2 separate regions of the Homo sapiens genome follow, and region 2 is linked to region 1. A link means that fine-mapping ties the variant in region 1 to the expression of a gene that starts in the linked region. Tissue or cell type: hypothalamus. Region 1 holds a variant in brackets; the other region holds the start of a gene. All regions are shown on one strand. Distances are between the middles of the regions.

What was found. PIP is the estimated chance that this variant, and not a neighbour inherited with it, causes the effect.
Region 2: MSANTD3 starts here. The variant in region 1 is fine-mapped to the expression of MSANTD3 in hypothalamus (GTEx, PIP above 0.99).

The regions. Positions count from the first base shown.
Region 1 is chr9:100,471,575-100,479,838 of GRCh38, forward strand. All of the region lies in intron 1 of MSANTD3-TMEFF1 (MSANTD3-TMEFF1 readthrough), which reads left to right. It overlaps TMEFF1 (transmembrane protein with EGF like and two follistatin like domains 1), which reads left to right and starts at 1,575. Exons shown (of 10, transcript NM_003692.5): 1 at 1,575-2,166. The coding sequence starts at 1,971. It overlaps LOC124902237 (a long non-coding RNA gene), which reads right to left and starts at 1,316. Exons shown (of 3, transcript XR_007061702.1): 1 at 1,229-1,316; 2 at 803-933. RefSeq lists silencers at 1,391-1,550, 1,831-1,890, 2,201-2,360. The variant G/A (reference allele first, on the strand shown) is at 4,713.
Region 2 is chr9:100,423,709-100,431,708 of GRCh38, forward strand. It overlaps MSANTD3 (Myb/SANT DNA binding domain containing 3), which reads left to right and starts at 3,435. Exons shown (of 3, transcript NM_080655.3): 1 at 3,435-3,685. RefSeq lists silencers at 3,272-3,501, 3,542-3,771, 3,812-3,931.

The sequences.
Region 1 (8,264 bases):
AATAAATGGAATTGCTAAAGAGTAAACATATTTTAAAGGTTTTTTGATACATAGTCAAATTGCCCTCCTAAAATGTATAAATTAGTAGTGCTCAGTCTGCCAATTCTTTTAACTCTTGTTAATCATCCAAAGGGAAAATAATTGTGTGTGCGTGTGTGTGTGTGATGGAGTTTCGCTCTTGTTGCCCAAGCTGGAGTGAAATAGTGCAATCTCTGCTCACTGCAACCTCTACCTCCCGGGTTCAAGCGATTCTCCTGCCTCAGCCTCCTAAGTAGCTGGGATTATAGGCGTTACAGGTGCGCGCCACCATGCCTGGCTAATTTTTTCTATTTTTAGTAGAAACGGGGTTTCACCATGTTAGCCAGGTTGGTTTCGAACTCCTGCCCTCAGGTGATCCGCCCACCTCGGCCTCTAAAAGTGCTGGGATTACAGGTGTGAGCCACTGCCCCTGGCCAGAGTTTTGTGGTTTTAATCTTTTATTACTAGTGGGTTCAAATCTGTTTTCATGTATTTATTGTCTGTACTTTTTGTGAATAAGAGTCAAGCTTCCTATTTTTCTATTATGTTAACTTTTTCTTCTTGACATATAACTTTATATTAAGTATATTGTCTCATATTTGCACTGAAGACATTTTTCCTAATGTGGCTTTGCTTGCGGTGGCTTTTCACACATTTCTTAATTTTATGAATCAAATTGATCAGTTTTTCAATGAGACTTAAAATTCCTTCTGGGGTGGGATGCAATATAATAGAATGAAAAAGGCAGAGGACTTTCACACAATTCAGTCCATGATCTTAGTACCTATGTCTAGTTATCACCTAGCAGGATGTGGTAGGAAGAGCACTGGACTGGGAGTCAGATCACCTTGCCTCTCTGGGTCCCTACTTCCTCATCTGTAGAATGGAGATAAGAACGAAAACTCCCTCCGAGGCCTGTAAAAAAATAATTGAAGAGAATGCACATAAAGAGCTTTCACCAGGCCTTGTATATTAGAAAATCCTCTCTGAATCTCAGCTTTTGTTAGGGGGAGAGGGCAACACAGACTTTTGTAAAACTATTTTCACTCACTTGTATGTGAGTCTACGGGAATGAGGTGGGGATGAGGAACCTAGAAATCTAACCATTCACCCAACATCTCTGAGAACTGCATGGCTAGAGTCAGAACTTGGGCTCCCATCCTGGTCCTGCCCATTTCTTGGTATGCAACCTTGGACAAGTCACCTTTACCTCTTCCGTGACTCAGTTTCTTCCACCTAAAAACTATTATAGATATATGACAGACCACCTGCCCTCATTCCCAGCCCTGCTGCTGGGCGAAGGAAACGCTTCAAAAACAGCTCACAAAGGGCGGCAAACAAGTCTGCTACGGTGCAGCCTACCGCCGAGGGGTGGCCCCAACCCCGGCCCCCGCGCCCCTGCCCTGTCGCAGGAACAATAGCTCCCCTGGAGGCGGCGCCGGCCGCGGCCGGGGGCGGAGCTGTCGGCGCGGGAGCTGGGGGTGTGCGCGGGGCGGGGTCGCAGCCACCCCTCCCGCCGGCGGCTCCGTCACGCGCCCCTCACCGGGCGGGCCGGGGTCTTTGTGACGCGGTGGCAACGGCCACGGACACAAAGGGAAGGCGAGGAGGCGAGCAAGAGGCTGGGCCTGCCTCCGGCCCGCGACCCCCGCCCGCCGCGCGCGCGCCCGCCCGCTCCCCTCGCCGCGGTGTCCCCCACGCCGGCTCGCACCCTCGCGCGCACCCTTGCGCGCCCGCGACCCTCGCACGCGCCCGGACCCGCCGACTCCGTCCCGAGCGCCGCGGGCCCGGGCCTGGCGGACGCTGCGGGTGGGGCGGGGATGCTGACGGGCTGCTCCCCGGCTCAGCGGCGCGGCTGCTAGGAGGCACCGAGGCAGCGGCGGGGCTCTGGGCGCGCGGCTGGATGCCCCCGGCCTGCGGCTCCCTGCGCTTCCCGCCGTCCAGGGGCACCAGTCATGGGCGCCGCAGCCGCTGAGGCGCCGCTCCGGCTGCCTGCCGCGCCTCCGCTCGCCTTCTGCTGCTACACGTCGGTGCTTCTGCTCTTCGCCTTCTCTCTGCCCGGGAGCCGCGCGTCCAACCAGCCCCCGGGTGGTGGCGGCGGCAGCGGCGGGGACTGTCCCGGCGGCAAAGGCAAGAGCATCAACTGCTCAGGTAGGACCGGTCGGAGCCGGCCCTAGGTCTTCCCACCCCTCCGTTGCCGCCTCCCTCGTGGTCCCTGCGGTCGGCCGGGCTGGGAAAGACCCCGTCGTGGGGGTCCCAGGGGTGGGCCCGAGGGTGAGCGAGGGCGGAGGGCAGGGCGCGAGCGTGCGGTGTGGCTTTGGGACCGGCGCTGGGGATGGGAGTGGCCGTGGGTGCGTCCGAGTGTGTCGAGTGGCTGGGCGAGGGCGGCCCGGCGTGTGGGGAGGCGGTGGGGCCGGGGCCGGGGCCGGCGAGGCTGAGCGGCCGGCCGGGGCTCCCGGTGTGGTCGTGGGTGTGCTCGCGGGAGCGTGTGTTTGTGTTGTGAAGGCTGAGGGGAGGGAGGGCGGCCCCAGGCAGGGATCTGTGTGTGTGTGTGCAGAGTGCGGTGGGTGGGAGACGGCGAGGGGGCTGGGCGGGGTGAGGGCAGGGGAGTGACCATGTGCTGATGTGCTGGGGAGATTCTTCCTTAAGGCACTGGGGGTCTCGGGGGTGGGGGTCGTGTGGATAAAGGGAACGGGTTGTCTTGAGGACGCGGTTTGGCGATGCAGAGTGACTGTGTGTGTGCGCGCGCGCGCGCGTGTGTGTTCTTTGGGTTCTGAGATGGGATCTGGGGGCTTAGAGTGACCTCGGGTCTGTGGATATGAGCGGGGAAAGTCCCAGGGCCCAGGAAGTGACCCTGTGTTTTTGTGTGTTGTGTGTGAAGCCTGGGGCTCAGTTAGTCACCCTGGGGTATGCATTGAAGAGGAGGGATGGGTGCCCTATAGCGAACCCCATTTATGTCTTTTCAAAGGGGAGGAGGCTTGGGAGTCATCATCCTGTGTAGGGTTTGGATGTAGAAAGAGGAAATTAGGTCTCAGGGAATGCCCTTGTGTAGCAAGGTGTAACCCTGGGTTATTAAAGTGTGGAAAGAGAGAATTGGGTCCCAGGGAAGATGTCGTGCCTGTGTGTGTGTGTTTTGCGGGAGGGCCTGGATTCTGGCAGCAGCGGGGAGCAAGGGAGTGACCTCTCCCCTCTCTCCAAGGCCGCTTGCCCCCCCACAGCTGTTGGAAACAAAGAGCTTGCTGAGGCTTTAGTGGATAACACTGGGGAGGAGGGTCCCAGCAGTAAAGTTCCTCTTCATTTCTAAAGGGGTCCCAGAGGCGCACAAGGATTATGGCCCTGGGGCAAAGACAGGCATTCAGGTCTCATTTTTTGAGTGGAGGGTCTTCTTGGAGCTGGCCTAGCAGATGCTAGTGATCATAAGCCACATCCTTGCTAACTTGCCCTTTTATCAATTCTGGAGCCTTCTCTTGTCTTCTTTAAACCAAGGCGGAGTAGGGGGAGGAGGGAGGAACATAAGGCCACTGGGAATCTGCCGGACAACCTTTATACTTTTGGGCTCTTGAAGGGGCATTATTTCTGGAAGAGTGAGGAAGGAGCAAGAGAGTCTCAGCGCAGATGCTTATGCTACCCTAAATGAAGCAAGCCTTTGGCCCGCTATTTAGGTTTGAAGGCCTTAAATCTTTTAATAATTTTCATATGGTAATGTTTTATGAGGGGAATGGCAGTTTTGAGCACAGTAAACAATGGCATGTCCATTAAAAGCATTTCCATCCGTGAAAAAACTTTTCTGTTATTTTTCTGATGTTGAACGGGATATGGGGTAATGCTTTATTACATAATCATACTTTAAGAATAAAAACCAGTTGTATATTAGAGTGCCTTTTTATGTAACAAATATTAATTATCAAACTTGTAAGTGATCGCACCATGTCAATATTTTTCCAGCTAATGTGTCGCGGGTATTTGTTCTTGCTAAGCTAATTCGTTCTTAGCAAAATATAGTGTGTCTTGATGGGATGTTTTTGTGTGTACTTTCTAACTTGCATAGTTCAAGTTTTAAGAAAGGAAATAAAAGAAATAGAGGGATGGATACCCTTGAGGATGTGGGTTGGTGATGCAGAGCGACTGTGTGTGTGTGTGTGTGTGTGTGTGTGTGTGTGTGTGTGTTCTTTGGGTTCTAAGATGGAATGTAGGGGCTTGGAGTGACCTCGGGTATGGGCAGGAAAGTCCCAGGGCCGGAGAAGTGAACCTGTGTTTTTGTGTGGTGTGTGTGCGTGTGAAGCCTGGGGCTCAGTTAGTCACCCTGGGGTACTATGCATTGAAGAGGAGGGGTGGGTGACATGCAGTGTGGGAAAAAGGGGACTGATCTAGGGGTCATGGTCCTTGTTAAGCAGCTGTGTAATTTGGGGCAAGTTACTTAATTTCTCTTAGTTTCCATTCCTTTTAAAAAAGAGACTTGGATTTAGTAATATCTGAGTCTTCTTTCAAGCGTATTCATCACTGATATAAATGTCAATAAATTAAGCTGATCAAATAAAATGTTTTCTAGCAGTAAGATATACTTGAATAACTGGGTCTAAAGCTAGAGTTTTAACTAAGTGATACTTGTAGATTCTTATTGTAACTTTTTAGGATGAAGATTTGGGAACGATTCATATGGAAAAAAAATTTTTTTAGTTGGTAAGTTTGAGAACCAT[G/A]TTAATACAGTCTGGACACACACATCTGTTAATGCAGCTCGAAATTGTGCACAGTTTGTTTAGTAGCTTTTATTATCTAGGTATCCCCCCACAAACTGAAGTTTACTCTGTCATGTTTTTTTTTTTGAGATGGAGTCTCACTTTGTCACCCAGGCTAGAGTGCAGTGGCGCAATCCTGGCTGACTGCAACCTCTGGCTCCTGGGTTCAGGTGATTCTCCTGCCTCAGCCTCCGGAGTAGCTGGGACTACAGGCGCCCACCACCATGCCGGGCTAATTTGTATTTTTAGTAGGGATGGGGTTTCACAATGTTGGCCAGGCTGATCTTGAACTCCTGACCTCAGGTGATCCGCCTGCCTCGGCCTCCCAAAGTGTTGAGATTACAGGTGTGAGCCAATGTGCCTGGCCTATTTCGTTTTTTTTTTTTTTTGAGACGGAGTCTCACTCTGTCACCCAGGCTGGAGTGCAGTGGGGTGATCTCTGCTCACAGCAAGCTCCGCCTCCCGGGTTCGCGCCATTCTCCTGCCTCAGCCTCCCCAGTAGCTGGGACTACAGGCACCCGCCACCATGCCCGGCTAATTTTTTGTATTTTTAGTAGAGATGGGGTTTCATCGTGTTAGCCAGGATGGTCTCGATCTCCTGACCTCGTGATCTGCCAGCCTCGGCCTCCCAAAGTGCTGGGATTACAGGCGTGAGCCACCGCGCCCGGCCTATTTCAGTTTTAAAACTAAATACAGCCCTCGATTCCCTGTAGATATTCATTTTTGGTTTTGGACCATCATTTCAGCCTACTGTGAGCTTTCTGGAGCTGATTCGGTCAGGCTGTGCGTGTTGGGTCACTCACAGGTTTTTTTCACTTGCAAATATGAAGAGCAGTTCTATGGCTTCATTAAATTAATAGAAGTTGTCTAGATTGTGAAAAAGGATGGAACCCTGCGACATATTACTGGAGACTTTCTACCAACTTGGTTGATGTTGTTACGTTAGTCAACCAGATGTTCAACTAGCTATGCATCCTGTTAGTTGAATTTAACAGATTTTCGAGCTTCTGCTGTTCAACATTTTCCCATTTTGTTCACCAGCCTATTATTTAAAAGATTCTTTCAGATTGTCTTGTTAGATTGTTATGTGTATATATCATCCTGTCATCCTCCCTTTTTCCATTTTAGTAATCCTGTTAAATAAAAAGCACATGTTGTATAGCCTGCCTTAATAAAGAGCTGATGGTGGCTTTCTCATTTTACTGTATTCGAAAACTTATTTATCCATTTTAGAATTTTTCAGCAGTTACATAGCAGGTTTACCCACAGATGTTTTTCTGGATCTGCATTCCGCCTTTTTTTTTTTTTTTTTTTTTTTGAGATGGAGTCTTGCTCTGTCGCCCAGGCTGGAGTGCAGTGGCATGATCTCGGCTCACTGTAACCTCTGCCTTCCAGGTTCAACCAGTTCTCCTGCCTCAAGCCTCCCGAGTAGCTGGGACTACAGGCGCACACCACCACGCCCGGCTAATTGTTTGTATTTTAGTAGATATGGGGTTTCACTGTGTTGCCCATTCTGGTCTCGAACTCCTGAGCTCAGGCAATCCGCCTACCTCGGCCTTCCAAAGTGCTAGGATTACAGGCATGAGCCACTGCGCCCGGCCTGCATTTCTCCTTTTTTGAAATTTGAGCATGTGTTTATTTCTATTTATTTGATTTCTGGTCTTCTGGCACCTTGTCAAGGTAGCTTAGATAATTTGTGGTAGTTTTTAAGGCAGATGTAAAAGTTTTTTCAGCATCATGGAGTGTGAGTTATTTGGATCAGAAAGCATATTCTTTTGAACTAGCTCTGTATTCTGTTACTGTCCCCTACCCATGCCACTTACCTTAGAAGCTGGTTTCCTTTTATCAGATTTCTGACCTCCCTAGCTTGAAGATCATGCTTCTTGATGAAGATGAAGCATAGGGAATTGGCCCTGTTGTCTCTTGATATTGCATCTTCCCTAAGCAATGGGCCTTTGGTTTATCTCTTCTTGTTCTCAACAAGACTTTTTTGTTTGTTTGTTTGTTTGTTTGAGACAGGATCTCATTCCTGTCGCCCAGGCTGGCGTGTAGTGACGCAATCTCAGCTTACTGCAGCCTCAGCTTCTTGGGCTCAGGTGATTCTCAGCCTCCTCAGTAGTTCAGACTACAGGTGCGTGCCACCACACTCGGCTAATTTTTTGTGTTTTTAGTAGAGACAGGGCTTCGCCATGATGCCCAGGCTGGAACAAGACTTCTTTTGTTGTCCTCTTGCCCCAGTTCTCCACTTATTCTGGACTTTAGACTTATTGAGATTAAAAGAAAAACTTCGATTTTATATCTTTTTTATTTATGCTTATTTTTTTTTAAAGCTAACTTAACAGAAAGTTCCCAGTTATCCAAAGAGAAAAAAAGCTTGGAAATACATGACATATGTGAAGAAAGATAAACTTGAATTTAGGAGACCAGGTAACCTTAGACTGACTGACTTTGTTTTTCATTTGTGAAATGAAGATGATGATGGTCCTTTTTGGCTCTGGGATATTTGAGAAGAACAAATGAGACTAACCATGTGGGGCATTTCTAGCTTAGGGAATATGGTTAAAGAGGTAGAAGAACATACTGAGAGACCAGTAAGTGGCATTTCGTGATAGATATAAGGTAGAGAATTTGAAATGGGTTTTAACTAGAAGTGGGTCCTCTGGATTATTATATGGTGGTAGGAATGGTATTAATGGACGATATAAATGTCAGATTATGAGAAGTGCCTTATTTGTGGCAATTCAGGATTCTTGGGAATAAAAGTGAGTTTTTCTAATTAATGGGGAATCTCGGGCAGGGCTTTTATCTTCTAGATCCCTGTTGTGTAAAATGTGGATGGATAATAATTAATTTAGCAAACCTTGATTGAATACTGCGTAGTGTAATCTAATATACTGGATGTTAAGGGAAATATATGAGAAGGCTTCCCTGCTTTCAAGGGCCTTATAATCTTATAGAGGTGGTTAGCCTCTTACAGATATATATAGTGGAAGTTTCTGTTTACCACATCTGGGCTTGCTTCCCTACAGCAGTCCCCATCAATAAGCATTTATTGAGCACGAACAAGATAGGATTTTTTAAAAGGGGTACAGTTAAGTGGATTTATATATATTCACAAAATTGTACGACTGTCACCACTCTCTAATTCCAGAAAATTTTCATCACCCCCAAAAGAAACCTCATAGCTATTAACAGTCATTCCACATTCCTCGCCTCCCCAGTCCCTGGTTACTACTAATCTACTCTCTATGGATTTGCCTATTCTAGATATGCATGCAAATGGGATCATATGAGGTGTGTTCTTTTGTGTCTGGCTTCTTTCCCTTAGCATAATGTTTTCAATGTGCATCCATGTTGTAGTGTGTATCAGAACTTCATTCCTTTTTATGGCCAAATAATATTCCATTGTATGGATAAACCACATTTTGCATATCCATTTCTCTACTGATGGATATTTGAGTTGTTTTTACTTTTTGGCTGTTATGAATAATGCTGCTGTAACATTCATGGACA
Region 2 (8,000 bases), 48 kb before region 1:
GCACTCTGGCCTGGGTGACAGAGCAAGACCCTGTCTCTAAAAGGAATAAAAAAGGAAAAAAAAAAAAGATGTCGTTGAAATCAACTACTATATCAAGACTGCTTGGTGAGCCTGGATCCTAGCAAAAAAGATACAATATGTATAGCTATTCTCAGCAACCTGTGGAGCGCAATGCATCACTCATCTCCATCACAGGAATGGATCTCCTGAAGGGACCCTCCAGCATTTGAAAAAGGGACAAGTCACATGGATGAGTTCTTTATGGTTTTCTTTTCCTAGACTCTGTGTAGACGCTGCCCTTCTGTTAACACTTTCTACAAAGAAACTGTAATAGCTTTATTATTGATAAAATAGCTCACATTTATTGAGTGTTTTCTCTGTGTTTTCAAGAAACCTATTTAATTTGATGTAAGTGATCCAAAGTAAAAAAAAAAAAAAAAAAAAGAAAAAGAAGTCAGTTGTCCAAGGTAGCATGCAGAACTAAGTCAGGGATCAAGGAGAGAGCTGGGAAGGCAGCCACCATATTGCAGGCCTGAGTAGTTACCCTGCCCCATTAGTTTTTAAGATAGTCTGCTCTCTTTGTTTGAGGAGAGACACATGACTAAATTTGAGTTTCCCATGTCTCCTTAGCAGTACACCTACATGTGGCTCATGTCAATCACCATTATTTATTTATTTATTACAGCATTAATTTTTTTATTTTTAAAATTTTATCTGTTTATTTATTTTGAGACCAGGTTATGAGACTGGCTAATTTTTGTATTTTTGGTAGAGATGGGGTTTTGCCACGTTGCCCAGGCTGGTCTTGAACTCCTGGGCTCAAGCGATCCACATGCTCCAGCCTCCCAAAGTGCTGGGATTACAGGCATGAGCCACAATCTTCATTATTTAAATCAATAAAATAACACTGATCATTTGCTGAAGTTAAGACTAGAAGCTTTTATCTACCCAGCCAGGTAGGCATCATATTCCCATCTTAGAAATGAGAAAACTGGCCGGGCATGGTGGCTCATGCCTGTAATCCCAGCACTTTGGGAGGCAGAGGCGGGCGGATCACGAGGTCAGGAGATCGAGACCATACTGGCTAACATGGTGAAACCCCGTCTCTACTAAAAATACAAAAAAAATTAGCCAGGCGTGGTGGCAGGCGCCTGTAGTCCCAGCTACTCGGGAGGCTGAGGCAGGAGAATGGCGTGAACCCGGGAGGTGGAGCTTGCAGTGAGCCGAGATTGCGCCACCACTGCACTCCAGCCTGGGTGACAAAGCGAGACTCCGTCTCAAAAAAAAAAAAAAAAATGAAATGAGAAAACTGAGATTCAGGAGCTTAACTTAGTTCACGTTTATCTAGTGCTTTTTCCACACTGTATCACTTTATCAATCAAATTTCCAATCTGAATTGACCTTCCAATGTCACACCCCAATAGTTTTCCCTTGACCGTATCTGCATGTAAGAAGGGAATCTTCATGGACTTATAATATGGCACTAAGTGGAAAACAAGTGTAAATGATGTACAGCCTTGGCTTTCGGTGTGGTATCATAGCTTGTTTGCTAGCACATTGTAGCAACTCCCCTGGTATAATTTTAGTTTCCAGGCTCTCTGGACAATTTCAAGGCCTCCTGGACATCAGACAAATTATTGTTAAAATAATGAATGAGATGCCTGTAATCCCAGCACTTTGGGAGACTGAGGTGGGCAGATCACTTGAGGTCAGGAGTTCGAGACCAGCCTGGCCAACATGGCGAAATCCTGTCTCTACTAAAATTACAAAAATTATCCAGGAGTGGTGGCACATGCCTATAGTCCCAGCTACTTGGGAGGCTGAGGCAGGAGAATTGCTTGAACCCGGGAAGCGGAGGTTGCAGTGAGCCAAGATTGCACCATTGCACTCCAGCAGACTCTGTCTCAAAAAAAAAAAAAAAAAAAGAAAAGAAAAAGAATGAGGACCAGTATAGCTCTTAGTTTAGGGTCTTTATTTTTATTGGTGCTTCTGCCCTGGATTGTTTTTTGAGGGAAGAAAGAAAGGGTTGCGTGATTCTTTGTACATAGTGAAAACCTAGATCAGTTTTTACTTTAGGGCTATGGATAGTGGGAGTTGGGAGGGCAAGCAATAGTCTCAAAAATGTTCAAGGAATTAAAACACAAAAACGGAAAATTGCAAGTGTTGACAAGGTTGTGGAAACTTGGAACCCTCAAACATTGGTGATGGGAATGTAAAATGATTCATTCAGCTGCTGTGGAAAACTTTTTGGCAGTTCCTGGAAAAGTTAAACATAGAATTACCCTATGACCCAGAAAGTCCACTCCTAGGTATGTATCCAAAAGAACTGGGAACAGGTACTCAAATATGTGTACAGGCATGTTCAGAGCAGCACTATTCACAATAGCCAAAAGGTGGAAGTAACCCAAATATCTATCAAGGGATGAATGAATAAACAAATTATAATATACACATACAATGGGATATTAATCAGCCATAAAAAGGAATGAAGTACTGATCCACGCCTCAACATGGATGAATCTTAAATACAGGCTAAGTCAAAGAAACGACACAAAAGGCCGCATATTGTATGGTTGCATTTATATGAAATACCCAGAAAAAAGTAAACTCACAGAGATAGAAAATAGCTGAGTCGTTGCCAGGGTCTGGAGGAAGGAGGGACTGGGGAATTACTGCTTAATGGAGTATGGATGTTTCAGAACTAGATAGAAGTGGTTGCTCAACATTATGAATGTAATAAATGCCACCAAATCGTTCGCTTTTAAGTGGTTTATGTTATGCGAATTTCACCTCAAAAAAAAAAAAAGTTAAAAAGCCTTCTCTGCCTTTCTCTGGGGTTGGAGTCTTCCCAATGGATCCAGGGCAAAAGAAACATCCAGCCACTCTGTTTGCGGGAGGAGCAAAGGGTGGCTTGTCCCGACAGTTTGAGCTGTTGTGCATGCATTTACACACGCATTAATTCCAAATGAGTCAGCACAGTGTCCGAGACAGGTCCTGGGCTCCAGTGAGCACAGTCGCTCTCCTGGGGGAGGCACGTTCCACAAATTAACAGAAGTTCTGATAAACTCAGCATAGGGGGATTCGCTGTCCCAAGTATCAAGGAGTCCTAAAAGAAAAGGGCCTATTTCAGTCGGGGGACCTGGACTGAACTAACTCGTGTTCATGGCCGCCAAATCCCGTGTGACAAATGTATTCTTTTGTTGTTCATAGAAATAAAACAGTTTTTCGGGCCGCTTCAGGAGCTCCTCTGCAAAGGTGGGGAAAAAAGGCAACTAAATCAGCACGAGGACGTCAGCCCGAGGATGTCAGGAGCGGGGTCGGTGCGGACGGGCAGGTGGGCGGGGGGGCACCCCGCGCCCCGCCCCAGTCCCCTGGAGGCCGGCGGCCGCAGCTCGGGGAAGTGGGGACTGGCGCGGGGCCGCGCTCCCGCCCTCCTCGGCGGCGCCGACGGACCGGCAGGCGGCGGGCGGTCCGCGAGGGGGCGGCGGCGTCCGGGCTTTGTGGCCGCGGCGCGCGCGGCGGGGCCTGGCCGGCCGGGGGCGCGCCGCCGCCGCCGCCGCCGCCCGGCGTTCGGGAGCCCGCGGCCCTCCCGGCCGCCCTGCTTGCGAGAGGAGCCCAGGCCGCCCGCCCTCGCGCCTCGCCGGCCCCTCCCCCGGTCGCCGCGGCTGCCGCGCCGCCGCTGCAGGTAGGAGGCTCCCCTTCCGGGCGGGCCGCAGCCGGGCGGGGGCGGGGGTGGGGGGCGCGGGCCGGGCGTAGAGGGGGCCGGGGGCCGGCATGGAGGGTTTTCGGGCCGAGCCGCTGCGACCCCGGCCTTGCAGGCTGGGCGCCGGGCGGCCGCCTCTGCGCGCCGCGATGGGACTCGGTGAGTAGGGCCGGCCTGCTGCCTACAAAGCCCCGGGGCGCGGGCCTCTGGGGTACTCAGTGGCGCGCCCACGGCTGGGAGCGGGGTGGGCTTTGGACTCCCGGGCTCGGGGAGCTGCTCGGGGGGAATCCAGGTGACCTGCAGTACCGCGGTCTTCCCATCCCGGCGTCCCCACTGTGTGCTGATCACTGTGCTCGGCGCTTTTCCATACTTGTCTCCTTTAAGACCTCCAGTGCCCCGCCCGTCCAGAGTGTAACGGGAGGGATCCCTCACTTGCAGGATGAAGGCCGAGCATCACATCCTTGCTTGACTGACCTTGGGAAAGCTCCTTTACTCCGAGCCGGGGCTACTGTTTCTGTAAATTAGAGGCGGGGGTCGGGGGGGCGTGGTATAATATCTACCCTCAGGTACTATTGTGAAAGATAATGTATGTAAATGATAACAGCTAAATTTTGAGCACTCTGTATGTACCAGGCCCTAGGTACTAAACAGTTGGCATGAATTATCATTGAATCATCACCCTGGCGCTGTGAGGTAGTTACTGTAAATTGCATGAATAATCTTTATTTAGGAGTACGAAACAGTGAAGAATTTAGTCTCCCTATTCCGATTCAGGAGGTTGGGTATTTCTTAGGCGTGATAACATTTAACATTACAGACGTTCCTGCAGTATCGAGGAGAGTAGTTATAGGATGCAGGGATATATTTGTCATACATTTAAAACTGGAGGTAGGATAATATCAGGGCCAGAGAGTGTGCCTTTCAGCATGTCAGAGCAGATGATTGTATTCCAAGGAAATTGCTGAATATTAATTAAAAAACATAGTTTCTGAGTTAGGATTGAGGATGGCTGTGGGAGTCCAGGGCCAGAGAGAGACATGGGATGGACAAGGGGGAGAAGAAGGATTCTGAAGTCCTGGAGGAAGATGTAGAGGAAGGCACCAGGGTTCACCATCCCTCCCCTGCAGCATTGCTGGGCCAGATTTCATCCCTCCCGTAGAGACCCGGGCTAGGGGACAAAGGCTGCTGGGGCAGGGGGTGGGGAGGGATGTTATAGGTTGTCTCTTTTTACTCCCAGGCCGCCAAAAATATTCAGATTGATGGAGGGTCAGGTGATTGGGCCTCCTAAAATGCCATTATCCCTTCTCACAAAATTCTTGTGTTTCAGGGCATGGGGATGCTTGCCAGCCCTAATGGTTGATGAGATGCTTAAAATACAAAGGTCTCACTGATATAATGGAAGAGTGCATTTTCAACACCATTCACTGGGTTAGAGAAGTAATGGGCCTGAGGAGATTATTTTGGGTTTAGAATGGGGAGAACTAAAAAGGCTTTGGATCCTGAAGAAGGAAGAGAGGCAGGAAGGGCCCAGGCACTGCACCTGTGGGGAAAGGCAGGAGAAGAAGGAGCTGAGGACTTCACCCCACCATCTGCAGAATACCCAACAGGCTGTTCAGTTCTCAGCTACCAAGGGGGCACCCTTTCCTCTCCCAGTTGGTGATGATTTGTTAACGTATTGTGGAAGATCAAGGGCTGGACTCAGGCACTCCTGTCCTGAGTGAGTAGGAAAGACGTCTGGGAGAAGGGTGGTTTATTTTGTTTTTAACCAGGCATTGAAGCAGAGAGTAGGTGGGTACGTAGCGATGGTGAAGGTAGGGAACATCATGCATACTTGGAAGAGCAATTGCTTTGGAGAGATAGACAGTTTGGGGTTTGAATCCTAGCTCTGCCATTTCTTAGCTTTGTACATTTTTTGTGAGGATAAAATAATGTTTTTTCACATATCTGGCGTGCAGTTCAACAAGCACTAGTACCGTATTCCCTGTCCGTGATAACATTCATTCAACAAATGTCTGCTGAGCACCAGTCATGTGCTGAGTCATATGTTACATCCTGGGGATACAGCGATGAGTCAGAAATTATGTATTCCCCTAGGAATTTCCCAGTCCAGTGTGGGAGATGGACGCAAAGAGCAAATTGCAAAAAATATGGGAAGTGCTACAGTACAGTCATGTACAACTGTCAGTGAGCTCATAGAAGAGTAACTCATTCTGAGCCAGTGGGAACTCAGGGCCAATCTATATCTAACAAGGTGAGTATGAGACCTTATGACACAGGTTTTTGTTTTTTGTTTTTGTTTTTTTTTTGGGGGGGGACAGTCTCGCTCTGTTGCCCAGGCTGGAGTGCAGTGGCATGATCTCGGCTCACTGCAGTCTCCACCTCTTGGGTTCAAGCGATTCTCTTGTCTCAGCCTCCCAAGTAGCTGAGATTACAGGCACCTACCACCACGCCCAGCTAATTTTTGTAGTTTTAGTAGAGGTGGGGTTTCACCATGTTGGCCAGGCTGGTCTCAAACTCCTGACCTCAGGTGATCTGCCCACCTTGGCCTCCCAAGGTATTGGGATTATAGGCGTGAGCCACCGTGCCCAGCTATGACACAGGTTTTGAATGCTCCTTTACCACCTAACTTTGATCTCTTTTACCTTTGTCTTATCTTTGCCCTGCTAGTCTCTCCTCTCTCTCTCAAAAAAAAAAAAAAAAAAATCTAGTTGCAGTGTGTGTGTAATTTGTAAGCTGCTTCAAACCCATTTTAGAAGGAAGCCGTTATAAAGAAAATAAACATAACAGACTGGGTATTAATTGAGGAAGGCTTAACAAAAATTGCATGAGAGTTGGGCTTTGAAGATTGAAAATGGGCCGGGCGCGGTGGCTCACGCTTGTAATGCCAGCACTTTGGGAGTGAGACTCTGTGTCAAAAAAAAAAAAAAAAAAGAGAGATTGAAAATGGGCCCTTGGTGGCCTTGGGGTAAAGGATTCCAGCCAAAGGAAGCCGCGTGTTGAGTTTGGTCTGGTTAGGTTGAAAATACATGGAGAGAATGAGGGGCTGGTGGGGGTGCTATAATCAGGACCAGATCCGGAAAGGCCATGAATGCCATGTGAAGAGTTGGGACTTTTATCGTTTAGGCAGTGGGAGAGACGTCTGAGGTTTACAAGGAGGCCTGTGGCTTGATCACTGTGTTTTAGGAAGATCCCTGTAGTTGTGTGGAAGAGGGTATGGAAGTTTGGGAGACCATTTTAGAGATTAGCTCTGTCCACAGACATGGGCAGTGAGAATGGGAGAGGAGGGAACAGATGTTTGGGTAAAATGTACCATAGGTCTTGTTAATTAGTTGCATGTGATTGAAGATTACATTTCTGCTTTGGGAAGCCAAGTTGATGTGGCTGACATCATCAGAAATCAGGAGATTTTGGTGTATGGGGAATAATTAGTTTGGTTTTGGCTATGGAGAGTTGGAGTTTTCTGAGGTACCCATAGTGGGGCACAGAGGTGGCTGATAGATAATTGGAAATGTGTTTGATGCTAAGGAGAGAGGTTGAGGCTTGGAAGAGAGGTTCTTCCATCACTGCCACTTTATTCTTTTTCTTTTTTTCTTTTTTTTTTTGTTTTTGAGATGGAGTTTTGCTCTTGTTGCCCAGGCTGGAGTGCAACGGCGCAATCTCGGCTCACCGCAACTTCCACCTCCCGGGTTCAAGCAATTCTCCTGCCTCAGCCTCCTGAATAGCTGGGATTACAGGCATGCACCATGATACCTGGCTAATTTTGTATTTTTAGTAGAGACGGGGTTTTTCCATGTTGGTCAGGCTGGTCTCGAACTCCCGACCTCAGGTGCTCCTCCCACCTCGGCCTCCCAAAGTGCTGGGATTACAGGCGTGAGCCACCATGCCTAGCCTTTTTTTTTTTTTTTTTTTAAAGAGACAGCGTTTTACTCTTTCACCTAGGTTGGAGTGCAGTGGTGCAATCATTGTTCACTGCAACCTCAGATTCCTGGGCTCAGGTGGTCCTCCCACTTCAGCCTCCCAAGTAGCTGGGATTACAGATGCTCATGCCTGGCTAATTTTTTAATTTTTATTTTTAGAGATGGAGTATCACTGTGTTGCCCAGGCTGGTCTCAAACTTCTGGCATCAAGCAGTACTCCCCCACTGCCTTCCAAAGTGCTGGGATTACAGGTGTGAGCCACTGTGCCTGCGTCCCCACTCCCAACTTTTTTTTTAAAACAAACACTTACTGTGAATCTACTATGTGCTGAAGATAGATATAAAATGTAGTTCCATGCCTCGGAGCTCACCGTCAGATAG